Linked DNA regions of Homo sapiens: regions 1, 2, 3 and 4 are each linked to region 5. The links come from fine-mapping of genetic effects on gene expression. A gene starts in region 5. Each other region holds a variant in brackets. All regions are shown on one strand. Distances are from middle to middle.

Region 1 (6,427 bases), 97 kb after region 5:
AACGAGGGCATGCATAATGGTTATGGGAGGGGTGCAGGGGGCTCTCACAGAGAGGAATGAGCTGCATGAGGATGCTGTGTCTGTGGTTAGGGCACTTGATGCCCTTTTGTGGGGGTGGGTTGGGGGGTGACCTGCCTGCAGTGTGGCTCTGTCCTTGGCATCCATGATAACCAATGAAACATTAAATATTTTCAGCATTGGCAGCGTTGGGCTTGGAGGCTTCTGCACCGCTTCTGAGAGTTCTGCCAGCCTGGATCCATGCCTTGTGTCCCCAGAGGTGACTGAGCCAAGGAAGGACCCACAGGGAGCCAGGGGGCCAGAAGGTTCTTTGCTGCCCAGCCCACCACCGTCCCAGGAGCGAGAGCACCCCTCGTCCTCCATGCCCTTTGCCGAGTGTCCCCCGGAAGGTTGCTTGGCAAGTCCAGCAGCGGCACCTGAAGATGGTCCTCAGACTCAGTCTCCCAGGAGGGAACCTGCCCCAAATGCCCCAGGAGACATCGCGGCGGCATTTCCCGCTGAGAGGGACAGCTCTACTCCATACCAAGAGATTGCTGCCGTCCCCAGTGCTGGAAGAGAGAGACAGCCGAAGGAAGAAGGACAGAAGTCCTCCTTCTCCTTCTCCAGTGGCATCGACCAGTCACCTGGAATGTCGCCAGTACCCCTCAGAGAGCCAATGAAGGCACCGCTGTGTGGAGAGGGGGACCAGCCTGGTGGTTTTGAGTCCCAAGAGAAAGAGGCTGCAGGTGGCTTTCCCCCTGCAGAGTCCAGGCAGGGGGTGGCTTCTGTGCAAGTGACCCCTGAGGCCCCTGCTGCAGCCCAGCAGGGCACAGAAAGCTCAGCGGTCTTGGAGAAGTCCCCCCTAAAACCCATGGCCCCGATCCCACAAGATCCAGCCCCAAGAGCCTCAGACAGAGAAAGAGGCCAAGGGGAGGCGCCGCCTCAGTATTTAACAGATGACTTGGAATTCCTCAGGGCCTGCCATCTCCCTAGGAGCAATTCAGGGGCTGCCCCAGAAGCAGAAGTGAATGCCGCTTCCCAGGAGAGCTGCCAGCAGCCAGTGGGAGCATATCTGCCGCACGCAGAGCTGCCCTGGGGCTTGCCAAGTCCTGCCCTGGTGCCAGAGGCTGGGGGCTCTGGGAAGGAGGCTCTGGACACCATTGATGTTCAGGGTCACCCACAGACAGGGATGCGAGGAACCAAGCCCAATCAAGTTGTCTGTGTGGCAGCAGGCGGCCAGCCCGAAGGGGGTTTGCCTGTGAGCCCTGAACCTTCCCTGCTCACTCCGACTGAGGAAGCACATCCAGCTTCAAGCCTCGCTTCATTCCCAGCTGCTCAGATTCCTATTGCTGTAGAAGAACCTGGATCATCATCCAGGGAATCAGTTTCCAAGGCTGGGATGCCAGTTTCTGCAGATGCAGCCAAAGAGGTGGTGGATGCAGGGTTGGTGGGACTGGAGAGGCAGGTGTCAGATCTTGGAAGCAAGGGAGAGCATCCAGAAGGGGACCCTGGAGAGGTTCCTGCCCCATCACCCCAGGAGAGGGGAGAGCACTTGAACACGGAGCAAAGCCATGAGGTCCAACCAGGAGTACCACCCCCTCCTCTTCCCAAGGAGCAAAGCCATGAGGTCCAACCAGGAGCACCACCCCCTCCTCTTCCCAAGGCACCAAGTGAAAGTGCCAGAGGGCCACCGGGGCCAACGGATGGAGCCAAGGTCCATGAAGATTCCACAAGCCCAGCCGTGGCTAAAGAAGGAAGCAGATCACCTGGTGACAGCCCTGGAGGAAAGGAGGAAGCCCCAGAGCCACCTGATGGTGGAGACCCAGGGAACCTGCAAGGAGAGGACTCTCAGGCTTTCAGCAGCAAGCGTGATCCAGAAGTAGGCAAAGATGAGCTTTCAAAGCCAAGCAGTGATGCAGAGAGCAGAGACCATCCCAGCTCACACTCAGCACAGCCACCCAGAAAGGGGGGTGCTGGGCACACGGACGGGCCCCACTCTCAGACAGCAGAGGCTGATGCATCTGGCCTACCACACAAGCTGGGTGAGGAGGACCCCGTCCTGCCCCCTGTGCCAGATGGAGCTGGTGAGCCCACTGTTCCCGAAGGAGCCATCTGGGAGGGGTCAGGATTGCAGCCCAAATGTCCTGACACCCTTCAGAGCAGGGAAGGATTGGGAAGAATGGAGTCTTTCCTGACTTTAGAATCAGAGAAATCAGATTTTCCACCAACTCCTGTTGCAGAGGTTGCACCCAAAGCCCAGGAAGGTGAGAGCACATTGGAAATAAGGAAGATGGGCAGCTGTGATGGGGAGGGCTTGCTGACGTCCCCAGATCAACCCCGCGGGCCGGCGTGTGATGCGTCGAGACAGGAATTTCATGCTGGGGTGCCACATCCCCCCCAGGGGGAGAACTTGGCAGCAGACCTGGGGCTCACGGCACTCATCCTGGACCAAGATCAGCAGGGAATCCCATCCTGCCCAGGGGAAGGCTGGATAAGAGGAGCTGCATCCGAGTGGCCCCTACTATCTTCTGAGAAGCATCTCCAGCCATCCCAGGCACAACCAGAGACATCCATCTTTGACGTGCTCAAGGAGCAGGCCCAGCCACCTGAAAATGGGAAAGAGACTTCTCCAAGCCATCCAGGTTTTAAGGACCAGGGAGCAGATTCTTCCCAAATCCATGTACCTGTGGAACCTCAGGAAGATAACAACTTGCCCACTCATGGAGGACAGGAGCAGGCTTTGGGATCAGAACTTCAAAGTCAGCTCCCCAAAGGCACCCTGTCTGATACTCCAACTTCATCTCCCACTGACATGGTTTGGGAGAGTTCTCTGACAGAAGAGTCAGAATTGTCAGCACCAACGAGACAGAAGTTGCCTGCACTAGGGGAGAAGCGGCCAGAGGGAGCATGCGGTGATGGTCAGTCCTCGAGGGTCTCGCCTCCAGCAGCAGATGTCTTAAAAGACTTTTCTCTTGCAGGGAACTTCAGCAGAAAGGAAACTTGCTGCACTGGGCAGGGGCCAAACAAGTCTCAACAGGCATTGGCTGATGCCTTGGAAGAAGGCAGCCAGCATGAAGAAGCATGTCAAAGGCATCCAGGAGCTTCTGAAGCAGCTGATGGTTGTTCCCCACTCTGGGGCTTGAGTAAGAGGGAGATGGCAAGTGGAAACACAGGGGAGGCCCCACCTTGTCAGCCTGACTCAGTAGCTCTCCTGGATGCAGTTCCCTGCCTGCCAGCCCTGGCGCCC[G/A]CCAGCCCCGGAGTCACACCCACCCAGGATGCCCCAGAGACAGAGGCATGTGATGAAACCCAGGAAGGCAGGCAGCAACCAGTGCCGGCCCCGCAGCAGAAAATGGAGTGCTGGGCCACTTCGGATGCAGAGTCCCCAAAGCTTCTTGCAAGTTTCCCATCAGCTGGGGAGCAAGGTGGTGAAGCCGGGGCTGCTGAGACTGGTGGCAGCGCTGGTGCAGGAGACCCAGGAAAGCAGCAGGCTCCGGAGAAACCTGGAGAAGCTACTTTGAGTTGTGGCCTCCTTCAGACTGAGCACTGCCTTACCTCCGGGGAGGAAGCTTCTACCTCTGCCCTACGTGAGTCCTGCCAAGCTGAGCACCCCATGGCCAGCTGCCAGGATGCCTTGCTGCCAGCCAGAGAGCTGGGTGGGATTCCCAGGAGCACCATGGATTTTTCTACACACCAGGCTGTCCCAGACCCAAAGGAGCTCCTGCTGTCTGGGCCACCAGAAGTGGCTGCTCCTGACACCCCTTACCTGCATGTCGACAGTGCTGCCCAGAGAGGAGCAGAAGACAGTGGAGTGAAAGCTGTTTCCTCTGCAGACCCCAGAGCTCCTGGCGAAAGCCCCTGTCCTGTAGGGGAGCCCCCACTTGCCTTGGAAAATGCTGCCTCCTTGAAGCTGTTTGCTGGCTCCCTCGCCCCCCTGTTGCAACCAGGAGCTGCAGGTGGGGAAATCCCTGCAGTGCAAGCCAGCAGTGGTAGTCCCAAAGCCAGAACCACTGAGGGACCAGTGGACTCCATGCCATGCCTGGACCGGATGCCACTTCTGGCCAAGGGCAAGCAGGCAACAGGGGAAGAGAAAGCAGCAACAGCTCCAGGTGCAGGTGCCAAGGCCAGTGGGGAGGGCATGGCAGGTGATGCAGCAGGAGAGACAGAGGGCAGCATGGAGAGGATGGGAGAGCCTTCCCAGGACCCAAAGCAGGGCACATCAGGTGGTGTGGACACAAGCTCTGAGCAAATCGCCACCCTCACTGGCTTCCCAGACTTCAGGGAGCACATCGCCAAGATCTTCGAGAAGCCTGTGCTCGGAGCCCTGGCCACACCTGGAGAAAAGGCAGGAGCTGGGAGGAGTGCAGTGGGTAAAGACCTCACCAGGCCATTGGGCCCAGAGAAGCTTCTAGATGGGCCTCCAGGAGTGGATGTCACCCTTCTCCCTGCACCTCCTGCTCGACTCCAGGTGGAGAAGAAGCAACAGTTGGCTGGAGAGGCTGAGATTTCCCATCTGGCTCTGCAAGATCCAGCTTCAGACAAGCTTCTGGGTCCAGCAGGGCTGACCTGGGAGCGGAACTTGCCAGGTGCCGGTGTGGGGAAGGAGATGGCAGGTGTCCCACCCACACTGAGGGAAGACGAGAGGCCAGAGGGGCCTGGGGCAGCCTGGCCAGGCCTGGAAGGCCAGGCTTACTCACAGCTGGAGAGGAGCAGGCAGGAATTAGCTTCAGGTCTTCCTTCACCAGCAGCTACTCAGGAGCTCCCTGTGGAGAGAGCTGCTGCCTTCCAGGTGGCTCCCCATAGCCATGGAGAAGAGGCCGTGGCCCAAGACAGAATTCCTTCTGGAAAGCAGCACCAGGAAACATCTGCCTGCGACAGTCCACATGGAGAAGATGGTCCCGGGGACTTTGCTCACACAGGGGTTCCAGGACATGTGCCAAGGTCCACGTGTGCCCCTTCTCCTCAGAGGGAGGTTTTGACTGTGCCTGAGGCCAACAGTGAGCCCTGGACCCTTGACACGCTTGGGGGTGAAAGGAGACCCGGAGTCACTGCTGGCATCTTGGAAATGCGAAATGCCCTGGGCAACCAGAGCACCCCTGCACCACCAACTGGAGAAGTGGCAGACACTCCCCTGGAGCCTGGCAAGGTGGCAGGCGCTGCTGGGGAAGCAGAGGGTGACATCACCCTGAGCACAGCTGAGACACAGGCATGTGCGTCCGGTGATCTGCCTGAAGCAGGTACTACGAGGACATTCTCCGTTGTGGCAGGTGACTTGGTGCTGCCAGGAAGCTGTCAGGACCCAGCCTGCTCTGACAAGGCTCCGGGGATGGAGGGTACAGCTGCCCTTCATGGGGACAGCCCAGCCAGGCCCCAGCAGGCTAAGGAGCAGCCAGGGCCTGAGCGCCCCATTCCAGCTGGGGATGGGAAGGTGTGCGTCTCCTCACCTCCAGAGCCTGACGAAACTCACGACCCGAAGCTGCAACATTTGGCTCCAGAAGAGCTCCACACTGACAGGTACTTAAATGAAAAAATTCCCACGGGAATGTGTGGTCAGTTTCAAAGGTGATTCCCAGCCTGATTTTTAGAAGTCAGTCGCATAGGTGAGTGGTTTTCTAAAAGCTGAGTTTTCCATATCTAATTGCTAAATGAACCTGCTTACCCCCTCTGGATGTCCTGAGGCTCTGAAAAATGTGAGAACCATGGTTGGAGGCTGGGAGCTGTTGACTATGTTCTTTTTCTTGTGTTCCTTAATTCATCTAACTTAAACCACTGGAAAAGTATCAACTGTTTACTGGCTGGCTGTGTACTATTAAGTGATAGGTTATAGTCAGTCATATATTTTTCTGGAGTCCAGATACATCTGCTTTTGAATCTGGATTTATTTAGTCAGGGGGCCCTTTTTCCTAGGGATTTTTTTTTTTGTAGTAGCCACTTAAAACTTTAATTGAGAAATCTGCTTTTTCAATAGGACATGAGGAGAAATGCCTTACTATCTACATTATCCTATTAATTGCTTTCTTTTATTATCCCAGAGAGAGCCCCAGGCCTGGCCCATCCATGTTACCTTCGGTTCCTAAGAAGGATGCTCCAAGAGTCATGGATAAAGTCACTTCAGATGAGACCAGAGGTGCGGAAGGAACAGAAAGGTCAGCGAAAGATATTGGTCTTTGGAAGGCCATGATGCCTTCCTTAGATACAGACACACTGGATGTTTTGGAAAGGAGAGTAGTCCTTATACAGCATGAGTTCCTACATAAGAAAGAAGCAAATGGCCATTCCCGTTTTATGTACAGGTACAGCAGTACCTGGGATGACTAAAAGCTCCATTGTTGGAAAAGGGATTGAATGAGTTGCTTTCATACTTGAGTTTATTACCTTAAATTTAAAAAGTCAGTCTGGGTGCGGTGGCTCATGCCTGTAATCCCAACACTTT
Region 2 (6,195 bases), 180 kb after region 5:
CATCGTGTCACACACAGGAGCCGGCTGCCGGGGGGTTTAAGAGAAGAGCCTTTCGGACCACACCGGCGCTCACGCTCATACCCGCACGCCCCGGGCAGAGCCGCGCACGCCGGCCACACTCGGGCGCGCGCCGGCCACACTCGCGCGCACACATACGCGGCGCTCGCCCCCCGGCCCCCGGCTCGGGCCGCGAGTCGCAGCTCCCTGCCGCCGCTCCCGCCGCCACGGATGCCCGCAGCTGCTCCCCTCTGCAGTGCAGCAACCCCGGCCGCCGGCCGGCTCGCCCCGGCTCCCGGCTGCAGGAATCGCGCCAGGACGCTGGCCCCGCTCGCGGCTAGCTTGCACGCCAGGGCACAGCGAGGATGGGAGGGTCGCAGTCCCTGCAGCCAGCCCCAGCCAGCGACCTGAACCTGGAGGCTTCCGAGGCAATGTAAGTGCTCCGCCCGGGCCGCCCCGAGTCTCCCGGGGAGGAGGAGAGGATGCCCGGGCTTTGTTAGTGTCGCCTTTCCTAATGCCTGTGCAACCTGGAGCCCAGGCTGGCCTGGGGTTCTTCGCAGCCTTGGAAAGCTTTACCTGGGGCTGCTCTGGGAGGAGCATCTGGTAGCCCCAAGTTACTGCTGTGGGCAGAAACGATTCCCTGGAATTCAGTTTTGGTCGCTCAGCAGTGGGTGCATGGCTGGGGGGCTTCTCCTGCCGTCAGCATCTTTCCTCTGCACCCCCGGCACAGTGGTATTTCCTGCAAGGGAACAGCCAGGCATCAGCGACTGCCTCCTCCTAGGAAGAACCCATGAGCGTGGCAGCTCCGTGCCCGGGGCGACAGCCCAGTTTCCGGGCAGCTGCGCTTGTGGCTGGGCAGATGGCGTGGTGCGCTCTGGTGGACGTTCCGTCTAGTTAGCCTAAGCATCATCCACATACTCTGGTGAACACTCGAGGACAAGGCCGCTTGCTATTATTAGTAAAGGGCCGAACCGTCCTGTCATTGGTGGAGGCAGTGCTTGACTGTGCATCGATCCAGGAATCCGATCTTTTCTCTCAACCACAGAGCTAACGTGCTCAGAAGTGGCCTTTATCCTGGCCGAGTGTTTATTAGAATTCACGTTTCTGTTATGGTCGTCTCCATTACCTACCCAGGCATGTTTGGACGATGGGGCGTATTGAATGGGTCTGCCGGCCGGGTCGCATTTCAGCAACTCAGGCTTGTATCCAAAGTGGACCTCCCAGCCTCACCTGCCCCCACTTTTCCAGAGAGAAGACTATGTTTCAGAGAAGAGTATTTTCTGGGGACTTGGGGGTAGGGGTAGTAAAGTGGGTTCTTAAGAGTCATGGATGTGTAGATTAAAAGATGGTGGGGATTGATCTGTGTGTTGTAGGAGGGATGGGGCCCCGGGGGGTACTTCCTCACTGGTCCCTCGACCCCTGGGCTTCAGTGAGGAGCTGGCTCGGCGTAGTGATGTAATGCTAGGCTGAGCCTCGTGGTTTTCTGGGCTCCAGCTCTTTAGCAGGGAGTCATTCTTCCGAGCAGGTGTGCACCCATCATTTGTCTTCACCCCTGTAGCTTGAGAAAGCATCGTCTTACAATGGAGGCACATCGCGTTTGAGGATTTTCTTTTTAAATGTTATGATCCTTGTGCTGTGCCTGCCTTGTTTCTCATGCACGTGTAGTGTTGCTAGGTGCATGGAAATACAACTCGAGTCTAGGCAGAAAAGAACCACTTTAACCTATTTTTTGCAAGTCCCTATAGTGGAATTGAGTTAATCAGTGACAGGCACTGGCCAACTCTCACGGCTCAGACCTATCTAGTGAAGAGCTTAGGAAACAGAAAGGACAATGTGACTGTACGTTTGGGAAAATGTGCTCCTCAGTCATTGGAAATTCAGCTCGCCGGTCCCTAACGTCCCCGCCCTCTTTTTCAGCTGAGTTAATAAATGATCAGTGTTCCGTCAGCTGAGGGCCGAGTTTAGATAGCTTCTGTTAGGTAGCTGTGCCTTTTTGGATAAGGTCCCTTAAGGTTCTGCCCACTGGGATAGTGGTGTTTAAATAAAATTTCAGGCTGAATGGCCACATTGTGATGGAAGCTGTTTATCAAATATTTTCACAGTTGAGTTGGTCCATATGCCCCCGCCTGAGGCTTCTCTCCCTAGAACTGCTGCCTCTGAAATGTCTCTAAATATAGATCTTTACGATAGTATATTCACTCATTCACAAAATCCCACCCTCCATCCCGTAACATTTTTGTTCTAAAAAAATGGAGAGAGAGGAAATATTTGGGGCCAGTGCCATTGCTAGCATCTGTCCTCTTCAAAACCCGTCTCTGCTCTCTGAATAACTGGGGCTTATTTTTCTAGTGCAGATGTGCTCTTTCCCAGTCTAGAGGTTTTAAAAATATATATTCGGAGAGTGCCTCTTTTCTGCCCAGGCACAGGTCTTTCTTGGTAGTATTTCCATGCAGCTAAAAATGCATGCACGTGAATAATACACAAGACAGCAACAGAGTGTGGGGCCCATGGCAGGAAAGAGGTTGCATTGTAAGATGATGCCGTCAGGGCTGCAGGGATGGTGACAAACACAGGGTGCGCACCTGCCGCGGGGGACAGCTCCTGACAACCGGAATCTAGAGTGAATGTTTCCCTTTTTCTCTGCTGGTTCCCTGTG[A/C]AAGACTGGCTTAAGGAGGGCCATGGTGTAAGAGTGAAATCAAAAGATAGAGGATTTGGAAGTGACTGAAGGATTTTTTTTTAATTTAAATTTTTTAGTTTTAAGATTTCTTTCCTTCCAATTGCAGGTTTGGGGTGCCTTTGGGCAGCTTTTGTAGCTCCAGCTGACAGCTTCATTCTATGCAGGAGTGCATTGGGCTAGGGAGGGAGCGACTTTTGTATCTCCCCTTTTGAGAACTCAGGCATCAAGATTGGAGTAGCAGAAGTCCCATGGGACTGGGGATTGAAGCCTGAGGATGAAGGTGCAAATGGTGACCAGTCTCTTGCTACTCCCAGGGTCGGCCACACATGACAGCATCAGCTTCCCAAAGGGGCTTGCTAGAAACGCAGAGCCTCAGACCTCACCCCAGACCAGCTGAATCAGAATCTCCATTTCATCCAGGGACTTGTAAAGATGCCCAGGTGATTTGTAGGCATCTCAAAATTTGAGAAGCCATGAGCTGGTTCAGTCTTCCCTCCATCCTGTCCATGAGAAACAGCTGGCCACTTCTCTGACTGCTCCTTTCCTATCTGGCAAAGAAGTTCTTGTAGCAATAGTGACCATTTGTTTCTAAATAGAATATGAGTAGCAAGGGGAGGGAGAATTCTCCCACAGAAAACACTTATTTCTCAGTATGGATGGTAGGAGACACAGGAATGGACAGGAAGTACTTGAGTAAATGTGGGCTGCAGCTATTGATCAGACCTGCTGTTCATCCCTTGATTCTGTGGCAGCCCCATGTGGTGTGGCTTCTGCTAAGTGGGGCAGCATTAAGTACTTTGTCCTTTATGTAGTTGGAGACCCCCGTTTCAGGGGTTCCCTCAGCTTCCACCAAATCCCCACACCCTGGCCACTGAAAACCACCCAGGGGGCCATTATCAGAGAGCAAAAGCGGTGGTTCTGTTGGCAAAGTCGGCCTGCCCCGACTGTTGCCCTACTCTCAAAGTGAGCACGTGCCCTTGGCTCTAAAAAACAAATCACAAATATGGAAACCCATACTCTGTAGACCTGTGGATCGAAGTAGAGGGGCCAGGGTGGATGGGAGAGAAGCGATGGAGGAGGAAGCAACAGGCTCTGTGATTGATGAGATGGGGGAGGGAAGAGAAGAGACAGTGGCAAGTACAAAATGGAAGTTTCATACCCTGGTAACTAAGAGAAAGAAGTGGCATTGGCCAAGACAGACAAGAAAACTGGATTGGGAGCTAGTTCGGGGAAGTTGATGAGTTGGCTGAGATTTCAGAAGTGGGTGGGATCAGATGTAGCTGGAGAGAGGCCAGGCAAAAGAAGGATCTCGGGTACCACCGCAGTAGGTAGAGAGATTGGAGCTCTCCACACATCTGTGGTTAGAAGTGGGGTTCTGGTCCCTTCCCTTATGTGGTTCCTGACCTTTTCTTTGGGAGCTGTAGAGAAAATCCGATGACTCTGATCCTGCCCCTCCTGCCTCGCAGGGTTTTTCAGAGGTGAGATGCCACATCTGCAAAGACTCTTGAGAAGACGTAAGTGCCAGAAAACTGCAAAAGTGGAAATGCCCTATGCCTGAAATTGCCAGCCTCTCAGTCACTCAGAAGGCCAGAAACGGTCGCTGGGGCTCTAAGCAGGACTCTTTCTTTAGCTCTCATTAGATCTTTTTCTTTTTCTTTCTTTTTTTTTGAGACAGTGTTTCACTCTGTTGCGCAGGCTCATATGTAACAGTGTGATCACAGCTCACTGCAGCCTCCACCTTCCGGACTCAAGGGATTTTCCTACCTCATCCTCTCAAGTAGCTGGGACTATAGGTACACATCACCATGCCCAGCTTTTTTTTTTTTTTTTTTTTTTAAATAATTTTTTGTAGAGACAGGGGCCTTGCTATGTGGCCCAGGCTGGTCTCTAACTCCTGGGCTCAAGTGAGCCATCTGCTTCAGCCTCCCGAAGTGTTGGGATCACAGGCATGAGCCAGCGCACCCAGCCATAGATCTTTTTCAAGGCTTTGTTTCTTGGGGCAGCCCTTGGCTAAATGCTTTAGCTTAAACGACAGCATTCCTAATGTGAGTTGCAGCCAGTTTCTGAGTTCCTGGACGGAGATTTTACTTTGGATATTACTGTTGGACACAATAGAGTTTTTTCTCCCCTAAAATAGAATAAGCTGCAACATTATCTGTAGAGTGGGAGGGGGAGATTGATTCCCAAAGGAAGCTTGGGTGCATTTTTCCCTGCCATTATTCCTAGATATCACCAGCGTGGCCCTGTGCCTGTGTTCATAAGGGTCCTGGGCCTTCACTATCTTCTCTGGGGGACTTGCCTGGAGGCTTTCTCTTAGGTGGGCTGAAGGCAAATATATTCCGAGGTCCTCCAGGTAGCTACCAATCATCCAAGGGGCCATGCCATGCTAGGGCCCTGGGACAGGGTACCCTGTCGAGGATGGGGTGAACAGCTAGGACTTGGATACTGATTGAGTGTGGCACTGCAGGTGAACATCAGATCAAGGTCAGTGGATTCTGGGTTGCTCTTCCATCGACCCTCCCATTCCCATCCCTGTGTTTCTTTCCACTGTCTACAGCCTGTTTCTGTGGCTAGATTTTTGGTTGCCTAGGAAACAACTTTATTCTGAAACATGATTGGCTGTTCTTGCAGATGGATTACCCAAGCTAGGGCAGTGTTCTGGGGTAAGCAAGTGATGCTGAACAATTCTGTTTCTTCCCTTTAAGATTAATGGTGAGGACTTAGGCATTGTAAGCAATTGTTCTGTGAAAACCAATTGTTCATGGACTGATGCTTTGTTTCAGGTTGGACAGGGGTTTAGGGGAGACTGGTTGGCCACAAAGAACTGACTGAGTCAGAACTGCTCACACACATCTATCCTGTGTTGGAAGCAGTAGCTCAGATGACATTTCTGTTTATATTTACAAATTCACTTTAGCAGTTGTTTCTGGAGTGCAGGTGTGTGCTGTTTAAACGCCATTGCCAAATATGGAAACAGCTGGATGCTGCAGTGTTGAAGCCAGGAGTGAAAAGCCCACTGAGCAGGCTCAGATTCAGCAGAAACTCTTGTGTACCATGTCTGTGTGCTAGGTTTTTTTCATTATAGAAATAATTATATCCCTTAATCCTGCAAGGTGGGTGACTTCTATAGATAAGGAAACTGAGTCCTCTGGATGGTTTAAATTAAGGGAGCAGTAAACTTTCTGTAAAAGACCTCATAGTACATATTTTAGGCTTTCTGGGCCATTCCGTCTTTGTGCAGCATCTCTGCTGTTACAGTTCAAAAGCAGCCAGAGACAACATGTAAATCCATGTTCCAGTAGAGTTTTAGTTGTAAAAACAGACTGCAGGTTGTAGTTTGCTGATTCCTGGTTATACGGATGATTGGTACAGGGCTCAGACTTATGTCCCCTTTGGCCTGGGCAATCTTTGTTTTCTGTTCTCTCTCTCTAAGACATCTCATTTATGCTCATGGACTTAAATAATATGTGCCGATAATGCCCCAATTTATAGCCTTCCCTCTCATCTGAGCACTGTAATTT
Region 3 (6,427 bases), 38 kb after region 5:
TGCACGTTGTGCACATGTACCCTAGAACTTAAAGTATAATTAAAAAAAAAAAAAAGAAATCCTGAGGGGGGGGAAAAAAAAAGACTGGGTGTGAGACAACAGGGACAGGCAAGTGCTCTGGCAAACAGGGAGTTCTTGTCCTACTGTCTTAAACAGGGAAGCCACCATCAGCTCCAGTGGGTGATTGCCTTGTGGGAAGGTGGTGCCAATGTTCTGAGTTCAAAAGAACTTGGAAACCCATATTTTTCTATGAAATGTTAAGTTTTTAAATTAAACTTATTATTTTGAGATATTAGTAGATTCACATGCAGCTTAAAGAAACAATGCAGAGAGCCCAAGTACGGCGGCTCATACCTCTAATCCCAGCACTTTGGGAGGCCGAGGCAGGAGGATAGCTTCAGTCCTGGAGTTGAAGATTAGTCTGGGCAACATAGGGAGACCCCATCTCTACCAAGGAAAAAAATTAGCTGGGTGTGGTGGTGCACACCTGTAGCCCTCACTACTCAGGATGCTGAGGTGGGAGGATTGCTTAAGCCTGGGAGGTCAAGGCTGCAGTGAGCCATGTTTGCACTACTACATTCCAGCCAGGTCAACAGAGCAAGACCCTGTCTCATAAAGAAAGAAAGAATACAGAGAGGTCCCATGTACCATTACTTAGTTTTCCTCAAGGGTAACATCTTGCCAAACTATAATGCAATATCACAACCTGGATACTGACACGGATACAGTCAAGATAACAGACCATGCCCGTCACCAGGGGATTACTCTTGTTGCCCTTCTGTAGCCACACCCACCTCTCTCTCCTCTCATCCCTAACCCCTGGCAACCACTATTCCTATTCCCTATTGTTCCCTATTTCTATAATTTTATCATTTCAAGAACGTTATATAAATGGAGTCACACAGTAAGTGATCTTTAAGGATTGGCTTTTTTTCTCTCTCAGCATAAATCTCTTGAGATTTATCCAAGTACTGTGTGTATCAACAGTTCATTCCTTTTTATTGCTGAATAGTATTCCAGGAATAGATGTACTGTACATTTTGTGGAACCATTCATCCATTAAAGCTCATTTAGGTTGTTTCCAGTTTTTGTCTTTTACAGATAAAGCTGTCATGAACATGTGTGTGCAGGTGTTTTTTGAGAACACGCATTTTCATTTCCCTAAGATAAACGCCCAAGTGTGCAGTTGCTGGGTTGTATGATAGTTGCATGTTTAGTTTGATATGGAGCTGACAAACTTTTCTAGAGTTGCTAAAGCATTTTTCATTCCCACCAGCAACGTATGAGGGATCTGGTCTTTGGACCCTGGCTGTCATTTGGTGGTGTCACTTTTTGGTGTTGCTATTCTGATAGGTGTGTTGTAATATTTCCATGTGGTTTTCATTTACATTTTGATGATGGATAAAGATGTTGAACACATTTCATGTGCTTATCTGCCATCTACATATTCTCTTTGGTGAAAAATTGCTTTATGCCTTTTGCCCATTTTCTAACTAGATTATTATTATTCATATATATATTTTTTGAGACAGAGTCTTGCACTGTCAGCTGGGCTGGAGTGCAATGACATGATCTTGGCTCACTGCAACCTCTGCCTCCCAGGTTCAAGCAATTCTCCTGCCTCAGCCTGCTGAGTAGTTGGGATTACACGCGCATGCCACCATGCTTGGCTAATTTTTTTGTATTTTTAGTAGAGACGAGGTTTCACTATGTTGGGAAGGCTGGTCTTGAACTCCTGACCTCGTGATCCGCCCACCTCAGCCTCTCAAAGTGCTGAGATTACAGGCTTGAGCCACTGCACCCGGCCTATTATTTTTATTTATTTTATTTTTTTTTTTGAGATGGAGTCTTGCTCTGTTGCCCAGGCTGGAGTGCAGTGGTGCGATCTTGGCTCACTGCAACCTCCGCCTCCCAGGTTCATGCCATTCTCCTGCCTCAGTCTCCCAAGTAGCTGGGAGCTACAGGAGCCTGCCACCATGCCTGGCTAATTTTTTGTATTTTTAGTAGAGATGGGGTTTCACTGTGTTAGCCAGGATGCTCTCAATCTCCTGACCTCGTGATCCACCCGCCTCGGCTGCCCAAAGTGCTGGGATTACAGGCGTAAGCCACTGCACCCCGGCCTATTATTATTATTATTTTTTAAAGAGTTTTCAGAGTTCTTTATATAGTCTAGATACTAATCCTTTGTCAGCTCATAGTTTGCAGATATTTTCTTCCATTCTGTAACATGTCTTTTCGTCCTCTTAAGAGCATCTTTTACAGAGCAAAAGAGTATAATTTTGAGGCTGGGTGCAGTGGCTCACGCCTGTAATCCCAGCACTTTGGGAGGCCAAGGCAGGCGGATCATGAGGTCAGGAGATGGAGACCATCCTGGCTAACACGGTGAAACCCCGTCTCTACTAAAAATCCAAAAAAAAAAAAAAAATTAGCCGGGCATGGTGGGGGGCATCTGTACTCCCAGCTACTCGGGAGGCTGAGGCAGGAGAATAGCATGAACCCGGGAGGCGGAGCTTGCAGTGAGCTGCACTCCAGCCTGGGCTACAGAGTGAGACTCTGTCTCAAAAAAAAAAAAAAAAAAAAAAAGTATAATTGTGATGAGGTACAGTTGATCAGTTTTTGCTCTTAGGGGTGCTGCTTTTGGTATCAAACCTAAGAACTCTGCCTACACCAACATCCTGAAGATTTTCTGCTATTTTTTTTTTTGGCTAAAAGTTTTGAAGTTTTACATTTTATTTTTGAGTGCATGATTCATTTTGAATTAATTTTTGTGTGAGGTACACGATTTAGGTATTGCACATTTTCTGGGTTTGGACAAAGGAATAGTATCATGCAGGGTAGTTTCACTGCCCTAAAAATCCTCTGGACTCCACCTACTCATCCCTCCCACACCTCTCAATCCCTGGCAACCATGAATCTTTTTACTGTCTACAGGGTTTTTGCCTTTTCCAGAATGTCATACGGTTGGATCCTACAGTATGTAGCCTTTTCACATTGGCTTCTTTCACTCAGTAATGTCCATTTAAGGTTCCTGCATGTTTTTTCATTGCTTTGTCATTGCTTTTTAGCACTGAATAATTTTCCATTGCCTGAATGTACCGGTTTATTGATCTACTGAATAACATCTTGGTTGCTTCCAAGTTTTGGTGATTATAAATAAAACTACTATAAACATCTATGTGCGGATTTTTGTGCAGACATTGTTTTCAGCTCCTTTTGGTAGATACCAGCGAGCGTGATTGCTGAATCATATAGGAGTATGTTCAGTTTTGTAAGAAACCACCAAACTGTCTTTCAAAGTGGCTGTACCATTTTGCGTCCCTACCAGCTGTGAATGGGAGTTCCTGTTCCATATCCTCCCCAGCATTTGGTGGTGTCAGTATTCTGGATTTTGGGTCATTCTGATAGGTATATAGTGGTATCTTGTTGCTTTAATTTGCATTTCTCTGTTGACATAGGATGTGGAACATCTTTTCATACACTTATTTGCCATCTGTATATCTCATTTGGTGAGGTGTCCGTTCAGGTCTTTGGCCCATTTTAAAGTTAGGTTGTTTGTTTTCTTATTATTGAGTTTTACAAGTTTCTTGTATATTTTGGATAAAGTGTGCCTTTTGCGAATAATTTCTCCCTGCCTGTGGCTTGTCTTCTTATTCTCTTGAGGTTGAGATTCATTTTTGTGT[C/G]TGTGTATTTTTTTTTAACCTACGAATGTCCATCTTTCTAACAACATTTGTTAGAGTATTCTTCCTCCATTAAACTGTTTCTGCACCTTTGTCAGCAATCAGCTAGGCATATTTGTGTGGCTCTGTTTCTGGGTTTGCTATTCTTGTCCATTGATTATCTTGATTACTGTGGCTATATAATAAGGCTTGAAATCAGGTACAGTGAGTCTTCTCATTTTATTCTTTTCTAAAATTGTTTTTGCTGTTCTTGCACCTATGACGTTCCCTATTAATATTAGAATAAATCTATCCATCTCTACACAATACTTTCTGGGATTTTTTTTTTTTTTTGACAGAGTCTCACTCTGTTGCCCAGGCTGGAGTGCAATGGAGTGATCTCGGCTCACTGCAAGCTCCGCCTACCAGGTTCACGCCATTCTCCTGCCTCAGCCTCCCGAGTAGCTGGGACTACAGGCGCCTGTCACCATGCCCAGCTAATTTTTTGTATTTTTAGTAGAGACGGGGTTTCACCGTGTTAGCCAGGTTGGTCTCGATCTCCTGACCTTGTGATCTGCCCTCCTCGGCCTCCCAAAGTGCTAGGATTACAGGCGTGAGCCACTGCGCCTGGCCCATTGTTTTCTTTTCTTTTTTTCTTTTTTCTTTCTTTCTTTCTTTTTTTTTTTTTTTTTTTTTGAGATGGAGTCTCACTCTGTCACCCAGACTGGAGTGCAGTGGTGTGATATCTCAGCTCACTGCAACCTCCAGTTCCTGGGTTCAAGCGATTCTCCTGCCTCAGCCTCCTGGATAGCTGGGATTACAGGTGCATGCCACCATGCCCGGCTAATTTTTGTACTTTTAGTAGAGACAGAGTTTCACTATGTTGGCCAGGCTGGTCTCAAACTCCTGACCTCAGGTGATCAGCCTGTCTCGGCCTCCCAAAGTGTTGGGATTACAGGCGTGAGCCACCACACCAAGCCTATTTTATTTTTCATTATCATTTTTTGTAATCTTCAACATATAGATCCAGCATATATTTTATGATGTTTATACCTAAGTATTATGTTTTCTTTGGAGTGACCGTAAATGGTGTCATGTTTTTAAATTTGCTATTCATGTGTTCATTATTAATGTATTGATTTTTGCATGCTGATTTTGTATCCTGTGACCTTGCTGAACTCACTTATTAGTTCCAAGAAGTTTGTTTGTTTTTGTAGATTTCTTGGGATTTTTCTATGTATGTAATCACGTTATTTGCAAATAGGGGCTGTTTTATTTATTTATTCTTTTCCCATCCTGTATACCCTTCCTTCCTTCCTTCCTTCCCCCTCCCCTCTCCTCCCTTCCCCTTCTGTTCCCTTCCCTTGCCTCCGCTCCCCTCCCCTCCCCTCCTCTCCCCTCCCCTTCTGTTCCCTTCCCTTCCCTCCGCTCCCCTCCCCTCCCCTCCTCTCCCCTCCCCTTCCCTTCCCTTCCCTCCGCTCCCCTCCCCTCCTCTCCCCTCCCCTTCCCTTCCCTTCCCTCCCCTCGCCTTCCCTTCCCTTCCCTTCCCTTCCCTTCCCTTCCCTCCCCTCCCCTCCCCTCCCCTCCCCTCCCCTCCCCTCCCCTTCCCTTCCCGTCTTTCTTCTTTATTACAGTGGCTGGGACTTTCAGTCCTGTGTTAAACAAGAGCGGTGAGAGGGGACATTTTTCCCTGGTTCCTAGTCTGAGGAGGAAAGCATTCAGTCTTTCACTGTTAAGTAAGATATTAGCTGTAATTTTGTTGTTAAACATAATGCTTGTAATCAAGTTGAGGAAGTTCTCTATTCCTAGTTTGCTGTGGGTTTTTATCATGAATGAGTGTTCGGTTTTGTCAGATGCCGTCTCTGCATCAATCGATGTAATTGTATGATCTTTCTTCTTTGGCCTGTTGATATATTGAACTACACTGATTGATTTTCAAATGTTGAACCAGCCTGGTATAATTATTTTTACACATTGTTGGATTCAATTTGCTAACACTTTGTTGAAGACTTTTGTATCTAAATTCGTAAGAAATATTGCTCTGTAGTTTTCTTTTATGTCTGGTTTTTGTATCAGGGTAATAGTAGCCTCACAAAATGAGTTGGGAAGTGCTTGCTCCTGTTCTGTTTTCTAGAAGAGATTGTGTAAAGAAATCTTACATTTTAAAAAAATGTTGGCAACTAATTTCAATTATTTTTAAGCACTCTATGGGCCAAACGAATGTGCCTGCTGGCTGGGGTTGGCTTCGGGCACGCCTCCCAGTAATTTCCACTTAAAGGAATGTTCTGTCTTGTGTTTTAGAGTTGAGAAGGGCATAGCTATCGGGTGAGCGCCCTCAATGTGCACAGTATGGGCCACTAGGCATATTTTGGCCTTTAGTCCTGCTCATTAACAAACCAAGCAGCTCAGGTTCAACCCCTTCTTTGGGGTCTTAGGGATGCTTTTGGACCTCAAGCTCCCTGCAGGCCCCACTACTGGCTGCAAACAAGATAGAGCGGTGGGCAGGGGGTGGGGAGGGTGGGAGGTGTGTGATTTTGTGCTTCAGGGGACATTTAGCAATGTCTCAGGACAGTTTTTGTTGTCACAACTCAGAGATGGGGTGCCACTGGCATCTGGTAGGTAGAGGTCAGTGTTGCTGCAGAGTATTCTACAATGCACAGAACAGTCCCCCACAATAAAGAATTATCCAGCACAAAATGTCAACAGCGCTGAGGTTGAGAAACCCTAGAATACAAGAACATTTGGCTTAACTGCTTTAACAGAATGCCTAG
Region 4 (6,427 bases), 90 kb after region 5:
TTCATCTCAAGGACCTCGAACACCTTAACCCCACCCATGGGGAAACTGGACTCACGGGGGCTGGCTCTCCCCATATCACCACTCGGAGAAATCTCCTCCAATGGACGTGACCATAAGGGGGCAAAGAATATGGCAGAAGCATCATACTTCACTGAGAACTCAGAAGTGTTGGGAAAGTCTCTAATTTGAGGGCCCAGGCAGGAATGTGGGGAGCTGGGGATCACCTTTCAGTCCTCGAATCCTCTCATCTCCACCACAGCTGCTGCCTCTGTTAACATTTATTTGAGTTGGCAGTTCTCAGAGGCTAGTCAGTCTTACTTAGTCTGTGTTCTGTTGCTTATCGCAGAATACATGAAACTGGAGCATTTATAAAGAAAAATAATTGATTTCTTTTTTTTATTGTTGAGACAGGGTCTTGCTCTGTTGCCCAAGGCTGGAGTGCAGTGGCATGATGTCAGCTCATGGCAGCCTCCGCCTCCTGGATTCAAGCAATCCTCCTGCTTCAGCCTCCCAAGTAGCTGGGATTACAGGTGCCTGCCACCACAATTTTTGTATTTTTTTATTTTTAGTAGAGACAGGGTTTCACCATGTTGGCCAGGCTGGTCTTGAACTCCTGATCTCAGGTGGTCCGCCCACCTCGGCCTCCCAAAGTGGTGGGATTACAGGCGTGAGCCACTGCACCTAGCATTGATTTCTTACGGTTATGGAGGCTGAGAAGTCCAAGGGCAAGGGGCTGCTCCTGGTGAGGGCATTCTTGCTGGTGGGGCTTCTGTAGAGTTATGAGGTGGCGCAGGACATCACTGGTAAAAGAAATGAGCATACTAGCTCAAGTCTCCCTTCCTCTTTGCATAAAGCCACCATGATAACCCAGTAATCCATGAATGGATTAACCTATTCCTGAGGGCAGGGCCTTCACAACCCAATCACCTTCACCTCTTAAAGGCCCCCACCTTTCAACATGATTAAGTTTGGGGATTAAGTTTCAGCGGGAGTTTGAAGGGGAAAACATTCATTCAATCCATTGCACTAACCCACTGGCTTTCATTCTACCCCGGCTTTCCTTTTCCAGAAGGCACACCGGAATGCAACGAGTAGCAGTGATGATGTTATGTTAGGAAATCTTCTAATCTTTTGAATTATAGTAATTTATGAAAATAACAAATCATTCACAGGCTTTAGTACTTTATAATTAGTCACAAATTACTTGCAGTGCATGCCCTGACACATTAGACCTACCAGTGAGTGTAGAGGTGTGTGATTGAGAAGTGCTGCCTTAACTTTGTTTCACAGAAGTATTAAAAAAAAAAAAAGTACTTTGCCTTTTCTGGGCCTCAGTTTCCTCATTTGTAAAATGAGAGGTTTGGACTAATGAATTACTGGAATGCTATGCTTGATGGAAGAAAAGAATGTTCATGATCTGGGCCGGGTGCGGTGGCTCATGTCTATAATCCGAGCACTTTAGGAGGCTAAGGCGGACGGATCACTTGAGCTCAGGAGTTCGAGACCAGCCTGGCCAACATAACAAAACCCTATCTCTACTAAAAATATGAAAATTAGCTGGGCATGGTGGCAAAGGCCTGTAATCCCAGCCACTCGGGAGGCTGAGACACGAGAATTGCCTGAACCCAGGAGGCGGAGGTTGCAGTGAGCAGAGATTGCGCCACTGCACTCCAGCCTGGGTGACAGAGTGAGACTCTGTCTCAAAAAAAAAAAAAAAAAAAAGAATGTTCATAATCTTCTAGTGAAACAACCACGATTTGGGTGCATCTCTGTATATTTAGTATCCTTGATTTGGGTTCAGTTGTTTCTGTCCATCCTTCTAGCCATCCATCCTGGCACTCACTCGTACATTCATATATCAACAACATTTTATTGTTTGTTATATGCCAGGCACCAGGGATATGATATTGAAAGGAGACTAGGACCTGGCCTCCATTACACTCCAATAGGGAAAACAGTCACCAACCATAGTGATGGGAACCATGACTAGCGCTAGGTGGGCCTGTGAAAGAAACTGATCTGGGAGCCCAGGCCAGGGAGGCTACCCTGAGAAGCGAAGAGTGGAGCTGCAACCTGGTGGGGAGCAGAGGGCTGCAGGCTCCAGGCAGATGCATGGCTGGGGAGCTTCATGCGGAATGAGGCAGGAGAGGGAGGTTGGGGCCACAACTGAGAGCAAAGCGAAGCCACAGTGGGGTGACAGGAGCAGACTTTGATTTCTAAGCTGTTGGTCTGGCCACAGCTGGCAGAACAGAATGAAGGGGGCCAGAGAGGATGGGAGAAGGGAATGCTGCACTTGTTCGGTGAGAGGCTGGTGCAGGCAGCCAGTACAAGGCAACGGGAGGCAGCGCCACAGGGCTCAATCTTGCTTTGCGTTACCGGCTCTTTGACCCTGGGTCCTGTCTTGAACTTCTTCGGGAAAATGTCCTTGTGTGTACAATGGGGCCACCCTTCTACCAGGCTGTTGTGTGGATTAAGCGCAATCGTAACTGAAAAGTGCCCAGGCCAGGCTCAGTGGCTCACTCCTGTAATCCCAACACTTTGGGAGGCCGAGGCGGGCAGATCACCTGAAGTCAGGAGTTAGAGACCAGCCTGGCCAATATGGTGAAATCCCATCTCTACTAAAAATACAAAAATTAGCCGGGCATGGTGGTGCACGCCTGTAGTCCAGGCCACTCGGGAGACTGAGGCAGGAGAATTGCTTGAACTCAGGAGGTGGAGGTTGCAGTAAGCTGAGATTGTGCCACTGCACTCCAGCCTGGGCGACAGAGCGAGACTCCATCTCCAAAAAAAAAAAAAAAAAAAAAAAAAAAAAGTGCCCAGAGGGTCTGGCCTGAGTCAGTGTTTAGTACATGGCAACTCTCTATCTTTACGGCTTTGCTTTATGGTTTTGCCGACTCCTGAAAACCTGGTCGTGCAGGGGCCATGTTTGTGTTTTCTGTAGCTGGCCTCCTTCCTCCCTTTAAGCATTGCATGTGTGTGTGTTTCCAGAACTATGCATTTAAGAACCCATCTGCATCCCCATCATCTGCTCAGACCTTGGTTGTGGCAGATGACCCCCTGCCAGCCCCTGCCCATGCTTCTCCCTTCACTGTGCTGTGTACATCTGGTCTGTGATGGAGGCTCTAGTCCCTGGGCCCTCCCTGACCTCCACACAGAGGCAGTGCCCCCAGAGGGTGAAAGGCTTCCATTCGGGGTGCTGGCCTGCGGATTCTGAGCAGAGGCTCTATCCCACACATTTCAACTCAATCTCGAAGCATAAAAGGATATTATGTAAGCTTCAACTAATGCACAGCCCTCAACAGATCAGTTCTTAGAATTTTTCCTGCCCTTAGGCAGATCTGCTCCTGGTGAGCAGCTTTAATCTGGCTTTAAAAATTACTTCTGATGGATAATCAAAGAGATTGCTGGTACCCAGCTTATGCTAAATAAACCAATGTCTGGGTTCTTATTTGGGAGGAGTTGTTGTGTGTCCCATACTCCATGGAAAATTTGTTCCTGGTTGCTTTCTGATAAGACCGCACAAGTTTACAAGATGCCAAAATATAATTTATCATCTTGTTCCAGATGGTAACGACTTCAGCCAGCCTGAAGGGAAGCCACATCCTTTCCTAAGTTGGCAGTTCCTGTCAGAGGCGTGGACAAGAAAGTGG[C/G]TTCGTTTCTTTCCAGCTTGATAAAGCCGACATAAATAGGAGCACTTCATTTCTGAATTACACACCATTACTCTTATCACATACTAAACTGTTTGACTTCAGTTAATGGGTGGGACATAATGAAATGTAAAGTGCTTGTTACAAGGAAAATTGCCAGGTCCAGATGCTGAGCAGCGAAGGGTGGGGGAGGAGGCATCGGGTTTCGTTCTGGACCTGGTGCTTTCCAGAAAGCCAGGCCAAGACACTTTATCCAAACCCCAAGTAGTTTTCCAGATGTCAGCCCACTCGGGCCAGGGCTCTCCATGGGCCCATCTGTCTTCCGTGACCATTTGTGAATCGGAGGGTTTTATATAATTTACCCTCTGAGTTTTCTCTTTTTTGGCCTACTCAGCTCTGCTTTTGGGTCAGAAAATGCAAATCTGGTTGAGACAGTAGCCAGCTCTCTTTTGGGTCCTCAGGCACCATTCCCATGTCCTATGTGCAGGAACAGGCATTAGATAAAGATGAGTGCAGGGGTGGTTCTGTGTACATGCCTCCTTCAGGGATGTCAAATGACGCCGCGTGTACTTCAGAGGTGAGGAGCAGGACAGAGAGGCTGGAATGGGGCTGGGGGAAGAGGCTCTTGCCTTCCTTGGAAGTTTTTATTCTGCATAGCAGAGTGAATAAGAAGATTGTGTCCAGTGGAATCAGATGTCCATGTTGAGATCCATGCTTAGCCTCTGTTCTCCAGGGTTCTCATCTGCAAATGGCATGGGTGGTACCCACCTTGCACAGCTGTTGGCAGGGCTAAATGAGATAATCCACACAAAGCACTGAGGCCTAGTGAATTTCATCTGTTATTATTTTCCCAACTTTTTGTTTTGGAAAAACTGAAACCTCAAAAATGTTGAAAGGATGGGACAGTAAATACCCACCTGTCTATGGTATTAGTCTGCTCGGGCTGCCATAAGAAAACACCACAACTTGAGTGACTTAAAATACAGAAATGTATTTTCTCCTGGTTCTGGAGGCTGGAAGTCCTGGTCAGGGTGCTGGTGGAGTTGGTTTCTGGTGAGGCCTTTCTTCCCAGCTTGCAGAAGACACCTGCTTTTGATGTTCTCACATAGCTTTTCCTTTGTGTATCTGCATTCCTGGTGTCTCTTCCTTTCCTTTTTTTTTTTTTGTTTTTTTTTTGTGTTTTTTTGTTTTGAGACAGAGTCTCACTCTGTTGCCCAGGCTGGAGTGCAGTGACATGTTCTCAGCTCACTGCAGCCTCAACCTCCAGCACTCAAGTGATCCTCCCACGTCAGCCTCCTGAGTAGCTGGGACTACAGGTGTGCACCACCATGCCCAGTTGATTTTCATATTTCTTTTTAGAGATGGAGTTTCGCCATGTTGCCCAGGCTGGTCTTGAACTCCTGAGCTCAAGTGATCTGCCTGCCTCAGCCTCCCAAAATGTTGGGATTACAGGTGTGAGCCATGCACCCGGCCTCTTCCTCTTCTTATAAAGAACACCAGTCCTATCAGATTAGGGCCTCACTACTATAACTTCACTTAATCCCAACTGCCTCCTTAAAGTGCCTGCCTCCAAATACAGTCACATTGGGGATTAGGGCTTCAACATATGGATTTGAGGGGGGCACAGTTCAGTTCATAGCACATATTTTAAAAATTTAACAATAATGCACTTCACCATCTCACTGTATGCATCCCTCATGTATGAATGCATGTGCACTGCCTGGTGTGGAAAACTGGAATTTTGGTAGCGGACATTGAGAGGAGAATCTTTCCACTAGCCCCCTCCAGAACGCTGTGGGCTTATGTGTGTGTGAATATGTGTGCATGTAACAAACAGTTACAAAAAGATTCCATAAATTTTCCTTTGATATTTCCCCTATAATAACTTTAAAGAAAATGGTAAAAGCTTTAGAAAAACCATACTTATGTTAACTTTGTCTTGAGGAATTTCTCTTGTTAATAGAATATATATGATCATAACAAGTATATAGAATCACAATTATGTAAAAATAACAAGAATTGTACCCCCAAACAATTGTGTAGGAAAAATCAGGAAATTCACTAGAACTCTGAAAGTGGCAAGCATGTAGCAGTATTTTTTCTGATTTTTTTTTCCTACATTTTCCACACTTTGTGTTGGCCACATATTATTTTTAAAATTAAAAATTGCACAGCATTGACTAGGCGTGGTGGCTCACGCCTGTAATCCCAGCACTTTGGGAGGCTGAGGCGGGCAGATCACGAGGTTAGGAGATCGAGACCATCCTGGCTAACATGGTGAGACCCCATCTCTACTAAAACTACAAAAAAAAAAAAAAATTAGCTGGGCGTGGTGGCGGGCTTCTGCAGTCCCAGCTACCCGGGAGGCTGAGGCAGGAGAATGGCGTGAACCCAGGAGGCAGAGCTTGCAGTGAGCCGAGATCGCACCACTGCACTCCAGCCTGGGTGACAGAGTGAGACTCCGTCTCAAAAAAAAAAAAAAAAAGGCACAGCATTAAAACTGTGTAGAATTGAGCAACATAGTCCAAATACATCATGTAATAAGCCATTTTATAATAACTGGATAGTTAGTTATCTGTAGTAAGTTCAAAATTCAGAGCCAAGTTCCCCCAAGTTCCCTGAGTGTTTCACTTTTTTTCGCCACACATTACCCAGATAAGTGTTCAAGTTAAGACAAATATGGGTATGAAGGTGATTCAGCTCCCAAGATTTATACATAGGTCACGTGCGGAAATTCCATAGCCAAATATAAATGATTTTGGGGTTATGCCTGTCCCTGT
Region 5 (6,427 bases):
CTCCTGACCTCAGGCGATCTGCCTGTCTTGGCCTCTGAAAGTGCTAGGATTACAGACGTGAGCCACTATGCCTGGCTCTCCTTTTTTTTTCCCCTAGAGATCTCCATCCCAGGGCCCTGTGTCTGCCCACTTCAATTTGGATGAGCTGTTATTCCAGTCTTGCTACACAGTTGTCACCATGGGGTTTCCCTTTACTGCCATCCTTGGTTAAACTCATTGCTTTCTGGATTCCATGTTTAAAACTTTTGTTTCGTTTATGCCCTGGTTTTGCTGAGGTATTTTCTTAGAAGAGATGTAAAGCAAGCTAGTTTTATGAGTCTAAAAAATGTCTTTATTTTTCTTTTCCATTTAGTTGAAGATTTGACTGGATATAGAATTTTGAGCTGAAACTAATTTTTCATCAGGAATTTAAAAGCATTGTTCCATTGTCTGCCTGAAATGGATTCTTTCTTTTTTTTTTTTTTGAGATGGAGTCTCACTTTTGTCACCCAGGCTCTAGTGCAATAGTGTGATCTCGGCTCACTGCAACTTCCGCCTCCCAGGTTCAAGCAATTCTCCTGCCTCAGCTTCCCGAGTAGCTGGGATTACAGGTACGGGTCGCCATGCCTGGCTAAGTTTTGTATTTTTAGTAGAGATGGGGTTTCATCATGTTGGCCAGGCTGGTCTCAAACTCCTGACCTCAGGTGATCTGCCCGCCGCGGCCTCCCAAAGTGCTGGGATTCCAGGCATGAACCATCATGCCCAGCCAAGATTCTGATCCAGCATTCACTCAACAAACATTCCAAGTATGTTCTAGGCACTAATGATACAGGTGCTCCCTGTAAATTCTTCATAAGTTAAAAGTATTGTAAGTTGAAAATGCATTTAACACACCTAACCTACTGAACATAGGGATATGGGAGTTAAGAAGAAATTACTTGGGCAGATAGTGAGGGTACGGAAGTCCTTGGTAAGGCTTTTATCCTTAATGAAAAGCAGCCCCAAATTGTTTTTTAACAAAGAGCAGCCTATAAAGTTGAGCTGCAGATATAAACAAGCAAGCTGGGAGCTTGCACAGGTGAATGCCGGCAGGAGCTAGGGACTATATGTGTTCAAGATGGTGGCTCTGTCTTCCTTTCTCTTTGTCGACCACCATACAATGTATTAAAGAGCAGTCAAGATAGTGCTGATCAACTGGAGAGTCCATTTACATAATAAGATTAGGGTGGGGCAGCCAGTCTTCCTCGCGGGCTATGTAAATGTCATACCTGATGGTACCAATCTATGAGGTCTGCGTAAATCAGACACCACCTTTTCCAGCCTGCCTATAAAATCTGCTGCGGTCCGCCGCCTCCCGTTTTGGACTTCTCTCTCTCTCCTTTCTTCTATTAAGTTTTCTACTTCTTAACCCACCCACGTGTGTCTGTGTCCTGAATTCTTTCTCATTGTGAGACAAGGAACCCCAGCATAAATACTCTAGACAATGTAGCTGTTAAAGTAGCATAGCCTAGCCTACCTAAAACGTGCTGAGAACACTTGCATTAGCCTACAGTTGGGCAAAATCACCTAACACAAAGCCTAGTTTGTGACAAAGTGTTGAATCTCATAGAATTTATTGAATACTGTACTGAATTTGAAAAACAGAATAGTTGTTTGAATACTCAAAGTACAGTTTCTGCTGAATGCATTCTCTCTTTTGAGCCATCTTATGATAAATCTACATCAAATTATTGTTATGTTAGGGAAGGAAACTGCCTTTGCAGAACTGACAGTAACAGAAATGTGACATGGTTGACTTCATCTTGCTTCTGACCTCCAAGCTGTCCTTGGTTATTCCTGGGCATAGGCCAAGCTAACTTTGGGAGGAATTCAATTTATAGTTTAATTTGAAAGTAAAGATTATAATAGTCCCTCCCTAAAACTAACCCCCTCCTTTCTCAGGGACCAAAATCGCCTTTGTAAGACTAATGAAAGGCCACAGGAATAGGATAATGGGAGAAGGCAGAACTCTGCTAAAATGTAGGCATAGTTTCTATAGTCCCTTAATGCCCAGGGGTCATGTGGCCAGAGTTCACAAGATCTGTGACTTTCCCAATTGCTCCTGTAAGTAACATCACTATTGTAGAACTTAAGATTGGGGTGTTTGTTTGTTTGTTTGTTTTTGTATTTTTAGTAGAGACGGGGTTTCACCATCTTGGCCAGGCTGGTCTCGAACTCCTGATCTTGTGATCCACCCACCTGGGCCTCCCAAAGTGCTGGGATTACAGGCGTGAGCCACCGCGCCCAGCCAAGATTGAGTTTTTTAAGATGTTTTTCAGACTGACCTCACTCAGACTCATGACTCATGACTCAACAGGTCCTGGGGCCCCACCCAGAGGCAGACTCAGTGCATGAGGACTGCTTTCCACACCGGTATGATTTCATCCCCAACCAATCAGCGGCACTATCCCCCTACCCCCTGACAACCAAATTGTCCATAAAAACCCTTGTTCCGAGCCTACAGGGAGACTGATCTGAGGGATAACTCCAGTTCTCCCACGTGGGCTCAGCCTCGCGGCAGTTAAACTCTTTCTCTATTGCAATGCCATGGTCTCAGTGAATTGATTTTTGTCTGTGCAGTGGGGAAGAAGAACTTGTTGGGTGGCTCCAGAACCATCTGTATAATGATGAATAAGACAAAGTCCCTACTCTCATGGAGGAGACAGATAATAAAGAAAAGAAAAAAAAAGGATTTGGTCATTGTAAGTGCTATGAAGAATTTAAATAGGCTAAAGGGATAGGTGGAGAATAGAAGTTGCATTTTTTCTTTCCCTCCAGATAGAGTCTCACTCTGTCACCCAGGCTGGAGTGCAGTGGTGCGATCTTGGCTCACTGCAACCTCCACCTCTGGGTTCAGGCAGTTCTCCTGCCTTAGCCTCCTAAATAGCTGGGATAGCAGGCACCTGCCACCACGCCCGGCTAATTTTTGTCTTTTTAGTAGAGAGGGGGTTTTACCATGTTCGCCAGGCTGGTCTTGAACTCCTAACCTCAAGTAATCCACCCACCTCGGCCTCCCAAAGTGCTGGGATCACAGGCATGAGTCACTGTGCCCGACCTGAAAGTTGCTATTTTAGGTGTGATGAGCAGCACAACATCTTTCCTGAGGAGGTGACATTTGAGATGTGACTTGAATTGTGAGGAGTAATGTGTCATGCAAAAATACAGGGAAGTCATATTGTAGTCAAAGGCAATAGCAAAAAAAAGTCTTTGGGGTTAAAATAAGTCTGACACATTCAAGAAAGTTCAGAAAGGCATACATACCTGTGTTAGAGTAGGTAGCTAGGGGAACATGAGAAGGGCAGCAGAGGGCATTCCACCCCCACCCCCAACCAGGAATGTCAGGCGACCATCATGTGATGGTCAGGTGGTTGTTACACTGTTTCTCTAAAATCATCATTGGTTGCAGCCAGCACCAGGGAAAGGCCGGCTCCCAATAGATAGAAAACACCTGAAGCTAGTGTCAGCCGCTTCCTGATAAGATCTCAGGAGTTGGGCAAGTGGGCTCAAGCATGGGCCCTAAGGGGCAAAATGTCAGAGTTTAACTAATATATGACCTTCCTCTAGGAATTCTCGACTGGCAAGGGAAAAATGCCTCAAATGAGCACGCGCACAACTTCAGTAAACACACTGTGAGTGCGGCCACTCCCAAGTGCTGGCAGACCACTGCATAAGTGGACAGCCTGCTCCAAGGGAAGGATCAGGAGAGAAGAAACGCAAATCCCAGAACCGTGCCAACATATAAAACCCCACATTAAGGGTTGTACAGTGCACTGGGATTTCTCAAGTCACCCGCTTGGTCCTCTTCCAAGTATACTTTACTTCCTTTCATTCCTCTCTAAAACTTTTTTAAAAACTTTCACTCCTGCTCTAAAAGTTATCTTGGTTTCTTACTCTACCTTATGCCCCTTGGGCGAATTTTTTCCTCTGAGGAGGGAAGAATAGAGTTGCTGCTGCAGACACATCAGATTCCCTACTGGTAACAGCTGGAGTGCGGTAAGTAAGGAGGAGAGGGCTGGAAAATGAAGTTGGCTCTGATTCCCATTACTTGAAAATACAGGGTAGGAAAACCCTATCTTCTTAGGTTCAGTGGCTGGGGAGCACCATCACTCAAGGTGAGAACTGCCTGGCTGAGCCCAGCCAACTCACAGAACTGTATGAGGTATTTTCATCTACTGTGCTAGGCACCTAGTGAGAGCCCTTTTGCGTCTTTCAACTTTGGAAAAAATTATGATTTATTTTTATTTTTTAAATTAATTTTATTTTTTTTTTTTATGTTTTTAGAGATAGGTTCTTACTCTGTCATCCAAGCCAGAGTGCGGTGGCATGATCATGGCTCACTGTAGCCCAGAACTACTGGGCTCAAGTGATTCTCCTGCCTCAGCTTCCCAAGCAGCTGGTACCACAAGCACATGCCAGCATGTGCAGCATGGGAAATATTTTTATGTTACCACCTCGACACTTTCTTCCTTCTACTTTTCTGTGTCATGTCTGCATCTCCCGTCACTTAGATAGGGACCTCACAGTTTGATTCTCCAGACCTTTAATATTTTTTCATATTTTAAATATTTCTTTAATTCTGTTTTTTGAGATATTTTATTAAATTTACCTTCAACCTTCTGTGGATTTTTTTTTTTAGACAGGGTCTTGCTCTACTGCCCAGGCTGGAGTGCAGTGGCATAATGATGGTTCATTGCAGCCTCGACCTCCCGGGCTAACGCAATCCTCCCACCAGGAGCAATCCTCTCAAGTAGTTGGAACTACAGGTGCATGCCACTAAATTCAGCTAATATTTTTTATTTTTTATAGAGATGGGGGTCTCGCCGTGTTGGCCAGGCTGGTCTCAAACCCCTAGGCTCAAGTGATCCTCCTGCCTCAGCCTCCCAAAGTGCTGGGATTATAGGTATGAGCCACCAAACACTGCCAGAATTTTAAATATCAGGATATAGGAAAGGTTTTGCTTTCGTTTTCAATTTTGTTTTTGTCTTATGGCACGGGGCCAGGCAGGGCAAAGGGTAGATTCCATTGACACTTATTTTTAATTTTCTGCCCAAGTACGTTCCCACCATTGTTCCTGGTGTTTCAGACCCTCTCCAGGGTCTGCAGAGTCTTGTTTGGCTGGAGCCCCTTCTACTCTAGTCTAATGCCCCTCTGCCCTAATTCCTCAACTACCAGGCCGTCACTGCTTTCCATTACCCACAACCATGGAGAAAGCTCTCATCAGCTAATGTGCCTTCTCCAGTTTGCCACATTATTACATTATTGTCTGGACATACCTGTTTTTTTGTTGTTGTTGTTTGTTTGTTTGTTTTTGAGACAGGGACTCGCTGTGTTACCCAGGCTGGAGTGTAGTGTTGCCTTCTCGGCTCACTGCAACCTCTGCCTCCCAGGTTCACTCGATTCTCCTGCCTCAGCCCCCTGAGTAGCTGGGATTACAGGCACCTGCCACCACGCCCAGCTAATTTTTGTATTTTTAGTAGAGATGATTTTGCCATATTGGCCAGGCTGGTTTCAAACTCCTGACCTCAAGTGATCCACCTGTCTCAGCCTCCCAAAGTACTGGAATTACAGGTATGAGCCACTACGCCTCATCTGGACCTACTTGTTTTTAAAAATGCCTTTGTTATCATTTTAATGAAGTCTCTTAAAGGAAAGGAGTTGCATTTGTGTGTTCTGTCTTCTTCAGTAAAGAGAGGGCTTTTATTTATTTATTTTATGTATGGAGATAAATGAACCTTAAACATTGTATATTTTTATTTTTATAAATCCACCTGTTTACTGTCATTTCAAACATTACTTTAAATTTATTTTCCCCTCAGAGCTTTTAAATAATCAGGAGCTCTAAGCATTGCCTGGGAAATGTTTTGTTTTCTTTGCGCTGTCCGCCACATGCTAGTGATTTTCAGCAAGGTTGTGTTTACGTGTATTTCAACTGGGCAAATAGGAACTAATATGAAATAAAATAACATTAATCAAACCTGACTTTATGAGCAAGTTTTGAAATAGTTCACATCTCAAATTAAAAATAAGTCTTTTTTGCTAATTAATGAATGAATGTTTTGGTCAAGAATCATTTCAAAGCTGAGCAGCTGAGTGAATGATAGAAACTGCACTCACACTGTTGCTGTATGGTGGCACCATCTCAGCCGGTATACAGAGATGTCTGCAGGTTTTCATCAGGATCATGGGAACTGCACTGTTGTTTACAGACATTGGAACTCTGACTTGTGACTTTAGTGTAATTTAAAACTTTTTTATATCTCAAAGCCATTTGCATTAGTCCATTTTCATGCTGCCGATAAAGACATGCCCAAGATGGGCAATTTACACAGGAAGAAGGTTTAATGGACTCACAGTTCCGTGTGGCTGGGGAGGCCTCATAATCATGGCAGGAGGCAAGGAGGAGCAAGTC

Direction of the effects. Alleles are on the strand shown, and positions count from the first base shown. SD is a standard deviation of normalised expression in the study named. Not every link is listed here.
For the expression in sun-exposed skin of the gene that starts at base 3,686 in region 5, allele G in region 1 goes with a higher level than allele A (small effect, 0.30 SD a copy in GTEx).
For the expression in anterior cingulate cortex of the gene that starts at base 3,686 in region 5, allele C in region 3 goes with a lower level than allele G (moderate effect, 0.47 SD a copy in GTEx).
In carriers of allele C in region 4, the expression in skeletal muscle of the gene that starts at base 3,686 in region 5 tends to be higher than with G alone (moderate effect, 0.74 SD a copy in GTEx).

Evidence for each region.
Region 1: its variant is fine-mapped to the expression of TACC2 in sun-exposed skin (GTEx, PIP above 0.99). The same link has a PIP of 0.9 or more in unexposed skin.
Region 2: its variant is fine-mapped to the expression of TACC2 in tibial nerve (GTEx, PIP 0.99).
Region 3: its variant is fine-mapped to the expression of TACC2 in anterior cingulate cortex (GTEx, PIP above 0.99). The same link has a PIP of 0.9 or more in prefrontal cortex.
Region 4: its variant is fine-mapped to the expression of TACC2 in skeletal muscle (GTEx, PIP above 0.99).

The regions. Positions count from the first base shown.
Region 1 is chr10:122,082,452-122,088,878 of GRCh38, forward strand. It overlaps TACC2 (transforming acidic coiled-coil containing protein 2), which reads left to right. Exons shown (of 23, transcript NM_206862.4): 4 at 196-5,508; 5 at 6,027-6,140. Among named protein-coding and RNA genes, the nearest start is that of TACC2, 97 kb to the left of the region's middle. RefSeq lists an enhancer at 3,015-3,516. The variant G/A (reference allele first, on the strand shown) is at 3,245.
Region 2 is chr10:122,163,563-122,169,757 of GRCh38, forward strand. The region is part of intron 7 of TACC2 (transforming acidic coiled-coil containing protein 2); the gene reads left to right. Among named protein-coding and RNA genes, the nearest start is that of BTBD16, 100 kb to the right of the region's middle. The variant A/C (reference allele first, on the strand shown) is at 2,654.
Region 3 is chr10:122,023,754-122,030,180 of GRCh38, forward strand. The region is part of intron 2 of TACC2 (transforming acidic coiled-coil containing protein 2); the gene reads left to right. Among named protein-coding and RNA genes, the nearest start is that of TACC2, 38 kb to the left of the region's middle. The variant C/G (reference allele first, on the strand shown) is at 3,681.
Region 4 is chr10:122,075,413-122,081,839 of GRCh38, forward strand. The region is part of intron 3 of TACC2 (transforming acidic coiled-coil containing protein 2); the gene reads left to right. Among named protein-coding and RNA genes, the nearest start is that of TACC2, 89 kb to the left of the region's middle. RefSeq lists an enhancer at 1,692-2,193. The variant C/G (reference allele first, on the strand shown) is at 3,651.
Region 5 is chr10:121,985,478-121,991,904 of GRCh38, forward strand. TACC2 (transforming acidic coiled-coil containing protein 2) reads left to right here and starts at 3,686. Exons shown (of 23, transcript NM_206862.4): 1 at 3,686-4,011.